Linked DNA regions of Homo sapiens: region 1 is linked to region 2. The links come from fine-mapping of genetic effects on gene expression. A gene starts in region 2. The other region holds a variant in brackets. All regions are shown on one strand. Distances are between the middles of the regions. Region 1 overlaps ARHGEF1 (Rho guanine nucleotide exchange factor 1). Region 2 holds the start of ERFL (ETS repressor factor like).

Region 1 (4,376 bases), 33 kb before region 2:
GCCCGGGAGCGGCACGTGGCGGAGCGGCTGCTCATGCACCTGGAGGAGATGCAGTGAGTAGGCCAGCCCTGGTGGGAGCGTCGCCCCTCCCCAGCACAAGGGCACCCGTGCTACCTCTGGCATGTTCCATCCCGTTTGCAGGTTCCCTCTTCAGGGTCAGAGTTCATTTCTTGGCACTGGGGGTCTTCCTCTACCCTGGTGTTTTAACTCACCTTGAATCCGAGTCTTCCCTTTCCAGCTTTGGGGTTCCCTTGTCATTTCTGGGTCTTGTCCATGATCTGGCACTTGGATCCCATCCTCCTGGATGAGAGACCTCCCTCCCTCTTATGACAGTCCTTCCCAATCCCTTCCACAGTGTCCCCTCTCTGTCTCTCTTCCCCCTGCCTATCCCAGGACAGCAACCCTGAGATGTATCCTGGGTGGATGGGGACCCCAGGCCTAGCAAATATGTCACAAACATCTCTCTTCCTCCTACAGACATACCATCTCTACCGACGAAGAAAAGAGGTGAGGGGGGCAGGGGAGGCGTGCGGCCTCCTGGGTTTGAGGGAGGAGGGGGCTGAGGGCCTGGACTCCTGGGTCTGAGGGAGGAGGAGGCTGGGGGGCCTGGACGCCTGGGTCTGAGGGAGGAGGGGGCTGGGGGGCCTAGACGCCTGGGTCTGAGGGAGGAGGGGGCTGGGGGGCCTGGACGCCTGGGTCTGAGGGAGGAGGGGGCTGGGGGGCCTGGACGCCTGGGTCTGAGGGAGGAGGGGGCTGGGGTCCTGGACGCCTGGGTCTGAGGGAGGAGGGGGCTGGGGGCCTGGACGCCTGGGTCTGAGGGAGGAGGGGGCTGGGGGCCTGGACTCCTGGGTCTGAGGGAGGAGGAGGCTGGGGGCCTGGACTCCTGGGTCTGAGGGAGGAAGGGGCTGGGGGGCCTGGACGTCTGGGTCTGAGGGAGGAGGGGGCTGGGGGGCCTGGACGCCTGGGTCTGAGGGAGGAGGGGGCTGGGGGGTCTGGACTCCTGGGTCTGAGGGAGGAGGGGGCTGGGGGCCTGGACTCCTGGGTCTGAGGGAGGAAGGGGCTGGGGGCCTGGACTCCTGGGTCTGAGGGAGGAGGGGGCTGGGGGCCTGGACTCCTGGGTCTGAGGGAGGAGGGGGCTGGGGGCCTGGACTCCTGGGTCTGAGGGAGGAGGAGCCTGGGGCCTGGACACTTGGGTCCTGGGCATTGGGTAACAGCCCTTGCCCCTGTCCTTTTGAACCCTCTCATCTCTCCTCAGAGTCTCACAGGAAGTAGTTGTGGGGTCAGGATGGGAAGGCCGGGCCTCTGCCTCTAGGGGGAGAGAGAGAGAGTGTGTGTGTGAGTGTGTGTGTGTGTGTGTGTGTGTGTGTGTGTCTTTGTGTGTGTTGAGCCCTCACTGTCCCTTCCCTACAGTGCTGCCGTGGTCAACGCCATTGGCCTGTACATGCGCCACCTTGGGGTGCGGACCAAGAGTGGAGACAAGAAGTCGGGGAGGAACTTCTTCCGGAAAAAGGTGCTTCCCTCAGTGCCCCGTCCTGACCCTTTCCTCTCCAGAGACGCCCTGGGAGCCTCATGACTCTGGATACCTAGCGTCAAATTCTGCTTTGTTGTTGTCTCAGAGATGCTTAGCCTGGTCTTCCTCCCCGCCCTCTCACAGGTGATGGGGAACCGGCGGTCGGACGAGCCTGCCAAGACCAAGAAGGGGCTGAGCAGCATCCTGGATGCCGCCCGCTGGAACCGGGGAGAGCCCCAGGGTAAGGCGGCTCTGGCCTCTGCCCTCCCCTGTCTTCCCCAGCTGCTCCCACTCACTGTCTCATTCTCTCTCGTTTCAGTTCCAGATTTTCGACACCTCAAAGCAGAGGTTGATGGTAATGTACCTGTAGCCATAGCATCCATACTGGGGGCCTGTGTGGGAGAGGCTAGGACCTGGACGCCTGGGTCTGAGGGAGGAGG[G/A]GCTGGGACCTGGACGCCTGGTTCTGAGGGAGGAGGGGATGGGGGCCTGGACACCTGGGTCTGAGGGAGGAGGGGCTGGGGGAGCTCCTGGGTCTGAGGGAGGAAGGGCTGGGCCTGGACCCCTGGGTCTGAGGGAGGAGGGACTGGGCCTGGACCCCTGGCTCTGAGGGAGGAGGGGCTGGGGGAGCTCCTGGGTCTGAGGGAGGGAGGCCTGGGGCCTGGACCCCTGGGTCCGAGGTAGGAGGGATTGGGCCTGGACCCCTGGGTCTGAGGGAGGAGCGGCTCAGACTCGGACTCTTAGGTCTGAGGAGGAAGGGCTGGGCCTAGACCCCTGGGTCTGAGGGAGGAGGGGCTGGGGGAGTTCCTGGGTCTGAGGGAGGAAGGCCTGGGGCCTGGACCTCTGGGTCTGAGGGAGGAGGGGCTGGGGGCCTGGACTCCTGTGTCTGAGGGAGGAGGGGTTGAGGGCTCCTGGGTCTGAGGGAGGAAGGGGCTCCTTGTCATGGTGGGGAAGGGCCTGAGCACAGCCTCTTGCATCCCCTGGCGGTTGTGGATTTGAGTTACTGTTCTCTTATCTCCCTCTTTCTCCCTCACTGTCTCCCCAGCCGAGAAGCCAGGTGCTACAGACCGGAAGGGAGGCGTGGGGATGCCCTCTCGGGACCGGAATATCGGGGCTCCTGGGCAGGACACCCCTGGAGTCTCTCTGCACCCTCTGTCCCTGGACAGCCCAGACCGGGAACCAGGTGAGAGTTTCCTGGGCCAGGGCTCCATGAGGCCCGGCGATCCAGGGTGGGGGTGCTGCCTGCCCCCTTGGCACCCCCAGATAGAAGCCATTCCCCAGCAACACCTCCCCTTTGCTCTCAGCATCCACTTCTCCCTGCTCCTGGTCACCACTGTCATTCATAACTTTCCCCTTCCCTCAGTTTGCCCTTTCCACAGCTTTGCTCCCAGGCTCTGACCTCTCTGCTGGTGCTGCGTCTCCCACCCCCTTGGACTACGTTTTCCATCAACCCTTCCTTTTCCAGAACCTTCCCTGAGTACATGACCAGTCCACCCTCTGAGCTGCATTGCTGGCCCCCTAGGTGGGGAGCCCGCCAGCCCCATGAGCTTCATCCCTCACCATCCTTACACTGCTGTGGCCTCAGGCCCTTGGATCTCTGCATGGCCAGGCCAGGGCTCACACACCAGCTCTGCTGACTGCTTGTGTTTATTTAGTATCTTGGATATGACTCCCCTTTCTTAGCCTCCGTTTGCTTTTCTCTAAAGGAGTATGAGAGGGTGGGGAGGATGAATGGACGTGGAGGCAGCACAGAATCCAGGGCCCTCCCGACCTCAGGGGGCTGCAGTCTGGTTGGGTGGGAGAGATGTTTGTGACCTATTTGCTAGGCCTGGGGTCCCCATCCACCCAGGACACACAGGGGCACCCACTTCTGTTGCATCTTCATGCTCCTGCCCCTAGTGGCCATGTTCTGAGAGGTCTTAACATCTGTCCGTCCCGTGCTGAAGTACAGAGCAGCCATGTGGTGTCTGCCAGGCACTGGGTAGCTTTAGCCCCCGCAATTCCAGGCCCCCAGAGTGTGGGTCTCGTGGCCGCAGAGGCCTTCCAGCCAGCCCTGCTCCCTCCACCCCACAGGTGCTGACGCCCCCCTGGAGCTGGGGGACTCATCCCCGCAGGGCCCAATGAGCCTGGAGTCCTTGGCGCCCCCAGAGAGTACCGACGAGGGGGCCGAAACCGAGAGGTGCCCAGGCTGGGGTGCAGGGGCGGGAGGTGTGGCTTACTGGGCGCTGGTGGGTGGGTGCAGGGTCACCGCTGCCATCTGTGCCTGCCTGTCCCAGGCTCTTGCTCCCCATGCTCCTCTGCTGCTCTCTGGGTCTGGCCATTCCTCTCCCTTCTTCTTTCCTTTTCTCATCTCCCTCCTGCTTCCTCATTGCCCCCCTTTCCTTTTATCCTTCCTTTTTCCTCTGCTCCTTCCTCTCCTTCCTTTTTTCACTAATCCTTCTCCTCCTCCCTTCCTCTCCACCACTCCTTCCATCTCCTTTATTTCCCCCTCCTCTCTCACCTCCCCTCTCCTCTCTCACCTCCCCCATCCTCTCTCACCTCCCCCCTCCTCTCTCACCTACCCCCTCCTCTCACCTCCCCGCTCCTCTCTCACCTCCCCTCTCTTCTCTCACCTCCCTCTTCCTCTCTCACCTCCCCCCTCCTCTCTCACCTTCCCCCTCCTCTCTTTCCTCCCCACTCCTCTCTCACCTGGGTTTTCTTTCCCCACCTTCCATCCCCCTCCGATCTCCCTGCCACTTTTCATTTTTTCAGCCCTTCCTCCCCTTCTCTTTCAAGCCCCCCTGCCCCCTGCCCCCCACCCCCCGCCTCGCTCCTGCCTCCTGGTGCCCGTCCCTCAACCCCCCACCCCTCTGCTCTGTGCCCTGGGGGC
Region 2 (4,376 bases):
GCAGGTAAGAGGGGACGTATGCTCCCCGAGAGACCAGACATCTTAAGGGCAGGTGTGAGGGGGACAAGTGTTACCTGGAGGGGCAGGTGAGAGGAAATAGGTGTTACCTCCAGGGCAGATGAAGGGAACAGGTATGGAGGACAGGTGTTGCGTGCAGGCAGGTATGAGGAGATAGATGTTACCTGGAAGTCCAGATTTGGGGAGTTGAAGGGGGAACATGGATGTGACAGGTGCATTGATAGACAGGTGTGAAAGGTTAGTTACCTGAGGCCACAGGTGGGTGCAGTGTGACTCTGCCAGATGGTCTGCCACCTCGATTTCTCTCGCTCCCCTGTCCTCCCCTCCCTGGGGAGCCAGTTCTGGCTCTCGGGTCCCTCCCGTGGCTCTGGCCCTGGGTGGGGCACAGAGTTAGCTCTGGGCTAGGCGAGGCCTGGCCTGCTGGCCTGCCGGGCAGCCAGGGCCCCTGAGGCTGCTTGGCGATGCGGAGCGCGTCTGGGCCGCGGCGGCCGGCCGGGAGGGGGGAGCGGGCGGGGGGGCCGTTTAGCCGTGATAGATCCGCGCGCCGCTTGTCTCTTAATCTCCAGAGCGACCGATCGATTCGCTATTTCCCTTTGTTGCCAGAAAATTCGATCCTGGGCCTGGAATTAGGTCCCCGGCTTAATCTGAGCGGAAACCAGCGAGGGGGAGACAGAGACAGAGATGCTGGGAGAGACAGAGACAGAGAGACAGTAAGAGACAGAAAGAGGCAGAGAGAGAGAGATAGAAAGAGATGCCGAGAAAGGAAGAGAGAGAGATAGATGCCGAGAAAGGAAGAGACACAGGGAGAGATAAGCACAGAGATTTAGAGAGAGATAGTCTTAAGAGTTGGACCCAAAAAGGAAGAGAGAGATGCTGTGAGAGACAGAGATAGAGAGACAGATCCTGGGAGAGTTAGAGGTGGACACAGAGATGCTGTGAGAGACAGAGACAGAGAGACAGTGAGGAGAGACCCAGCCAGGGGAGAGATAACAGAAGTGGCCCAGCAGGGCCCTGCGACAGTGGTGGAATGATAGAAAGGGTGTCCCAGAGGGCCCCGGCCCCACGAAGGTCAGGGCCAGGCCTGTACTCCTTGCCCCGAAGTGTGCAGACCCCAGAATTGGCCCAAATGTCCTTCCCACAGACCCTGTGACCCCTCATACCAAATATCCAGACCCCAGATATCCAGATCCAAATTCGCAGACCCTTAGCTTTGAACTCCAACTCCAAATCCAGACTTCTGGCCCCCTCAAGTCCAAACTCCTATGCTGATCCCCAGTCCCAGATATCCACACCCCCAGTCCTGACTCCCAGCCCCAGTCAGCTCCCAACCTCAGATATCTAGATCTTCCGCCCCAAGTGTCCAGTCTCTTGGCTTTGAGCCCCTAGGTCCCAAATATGCAAGCCCTCAGCCCTGACCTCTAAACCCCACTCAGAATCTAGCCCCAAATATCCAGACTCCTCAGCCCCAAACATCCAAATCCACCTTCAGGTCGGCCACCAACCCCCGTTCCCAGATTTTCAGTCCAGTCTCTTGCAGACCCCATCTCCGTGGCTCTCACTCGCTCTCCCTCCCCGCCCCCAAATCTCGCACCCCTGTCCCGAGGCCGCACCTCTAGCGCTACCCGCCTCCCACCTTCCCAGAGTTGGGCGCTGCCCCACCTGCCCCTTACAGCCGGGGCGGATGACCCCATCCGCCTACCCCTCCACCGGCTCGGAGGCCCAGCTTCTCAGGCCTCCCGGGACCACCCCCGCGCCCGCCCCCTCCTGGGGCGGGAATCCCCGCCCCCTCCCCGCCCCTGCGCCGGCCGCGGCGCTCACTCACTTTCTGGGCTTTTCGCATCCGCTCCGGTCCGGGGAGAAGTGTTTAAAGTTCGGATCCCGCAGCCATGGCCCCCGCGGCGTCCTGGGGAGGGGGCACCGGGGCGAGGGGCGGGGTGGGGGGAGATGCCCGGAGCCCCGGGGAGGCAGAGACCCAGAGGACGAGGAGAGGGAGTCTCTGAGACGCCGGGACAGGAGAGACTCAGAGACGGAGAGACAGCCAAGGAGACAGAGACGGGGAGACGAGCAGAGACGGGGAGATGCAGAGAGGGAGAGAGACAGCGAGATAGACGCGCAAAGAGAGCAGAGACGGGGAGAGCTGAGGACGGAGCTCCGGGCTGGAGCTCAGCACAGCGAGCGCGGGCGGGCGCGCGCCGGGGACAGCCTGGCCGGCTGGGGGCGCGGGGCGGCCCTGCCTCCTGCGCCTTCTCCTCTTCCTCCTCTTCCTCCTGCTCCTCCTCCTCCTCGTTCTCCTCCTCCTCCCTCCACTCCTCTGCGCGCCGCGCGCCTCCCGCCCTCGCGGCCGCCCGGCCGGGCTCGGCTCGCAGATATATGGAGGCGGCGGCGGCGGCGCGGGGGAGGGGGCGGGGGCGCGATCGATGGAATATAATTTTCCTCAAACTCGGAAAATAAAGTTCAGAGCTGATCAAATTTGAAAACAGATGTCGAATCGCGACTCTAAATAAGGTTCGATCCCGGGACTGAGGGAGTGGGGGTGGGGCGGGGGTGGGTGGAGAGGTGGAGAGACCCCCCTCCTCTCCCCTTCCCTTCTCCTCCGCCCCGCTCCTCCCTAAGTGGACGCGCGGACAAACGGACAGGCGCGAGGTGGAGGTGGCGACGATGCGTCCAGGACCCCTGCTGGACACGCAAGCCTGGACCGGGACTGGAACACGGACCCGCACACACGCAGCCTGGATAGGAGATACACGGACAGAGGGACATATGGATACAGTAAGACAGTGCAAACACACACTCAGGGACACACAACCCTACAGAGAGACAGACACAGACACACACACACAGACCTGCCATCTATACACGCAGCACACACATGCGGACCGTAATACAGGAAGTGGAAACACAACCGGTACACGGAGACATTCAGGCACACACAGAGAAACATATGCACAAACACAGCCTGCACACCACACCTTCCCCAACCCACAGCCACTCCCTGATCCACTGACCCACAAACTGGACACAAAGACAACCAGATGCACACACAGCCACACTCCACTCCCAACACACAGCCTGGACACACAAGCCCTCACTAACACATAGGCAGAACCCAGGGCTGGCACACTGACACTCCCCTTCACACTCCCACAAGGTCACAGGCACACACACGCACACCTACAGTGACAGGAAAGGGCCCTGCCCAGCCAGATCTGCTCCCATTGAAATAACAAGTCAATATCGACCAGCCTCAGGGCGGGTCAGACCCACAGTTCAGCTCCCGGCCGGCCGGACCTCCTGGCCCAACCTGACCCTCACCCTCACTGTCTACCCTCCTATTCCCTCCCTTGCCCCTTGCCCCTCGCCCCTTGCCCCTCACCCTGCCCTCTCTCCCGCTTCCACTCCCCAACCCACCACCCCCGACTTTTCTCTCCCATTCCCAGGTCAGGCTCCGCCCCGCCAAGTCCCACACCACCTTCTCTGGGGAAAGGCAGCTCTCACCTGGGCAGCCCCTGGAGGCTTCTACCCCTAGAGGGGAAAATAGGTCTCACGGCAAGACAGCAGTCCCCAGGTGGATATTCAGGGGCCAGGACAGCTCTGTCGGATCTCACCAACCCCACCAGCGCCCAGGTGCTGAGACCGAGGTGCTGAGAGGCTAGAAGAGAACTTCAGCCCTGCCTGACAGAGAAGGTTCAGCCTCACTCCCGCTCACCACTCACTCAGGCAAGTCGCTAAACATCCCCGAGCCTCAAGTTTCCTCATCTGCAAAATGGGACAATAATGACCTCCCTCCTAGAGTGGTTGGGAAGGTTAAACCGCAGGGCGCATGGAGCACAGCTGGTACTGCACCAAGTACCAAGTAAACACGCATTTGCTGTGAGCTTGCTGCTTCCGAATAATCTCATTAAAAATATTAAGAATTTTGCCAGATAACAAGAATTCCTTCACTTGTCTGTACCTTCACTTGTCTGAAAGGGAACATTCTTTCAAGGAGCCAACAGGCTTCACTGGGCTCCATTTACGACCCTTTCCCCCAGAGCCATGGTTCTCTGGGTGTCCATAACAGCCCCGGGACTGTCCACAGCCTACTTGAACACAGGTCACCAGCTACAGTGTTTGTGCATATGTTTCTGTGCGTGTGCCTGAATGTCTCCATGTACGGGTCGTGTGTTCCCACTTCCTGTATTACGGTATGCACGTGTGTGCTGCGTGTGTAGATGGCAGGTCTGTGTATGTGTATCTGTGTCTATCTCTGAGTTTATCTGTAACACCCAGCACACTACAGAGAGCATTCCCCCTCTACACCCAGCACACTACAGAGCCCCCTCTTGGCTCTGAAAGCCAAGGAGGAGGTTCCGGAACAC

What was found. PIP is the estimated chance that this variant, and not a neighbour inherited with it, causes the effect.
Region 1: its variant is the best candidate, but not a certain one, in a credible set for the expression of ERFL in whole blood (TOPMed, PIP 0.75).

The regions. Positions count from the first base shown.
Region 1 is chr19:41,892,797-41,897,172 of GRCh38, forward strand. ARHGEF1 (Rho guanine nucleotide exchange factor 1) reads left to right here. Exons shown (of 29, transcript NM_004706.4): 7 at 1-53; 8 at 478-507; 9 at 1,411-1,510; 10 at 1,655-1,751; 11 at 1,830-1,865; 12 at 2,553-2,690; 13 at 3,581-3,686. Among named protein-coding and RNA genes, the nearest start is that of ARHGEF1, 12 kb to the left of the region's middle. RefSeq lists enhancers at 1,656-2,156, 3,116-3,658. The variant G/A (reference allele first, on the strand shown) is at 1,951.
Region 2 is chr19:41,926,200-41,930,575 of GRCh38, forward strand. It overlaps ERFL (ETS repressor factor like), which reads right to left and starts at 2,250. Exons shown (of 6, transcript NM_001365103.2): 1 at 1,841-2,250. It also overlaps a transcript of ARHGEF1 not described here. RefSeq lists a silencer at 2,196-2,375 and an enhancer at 2,647-3,147.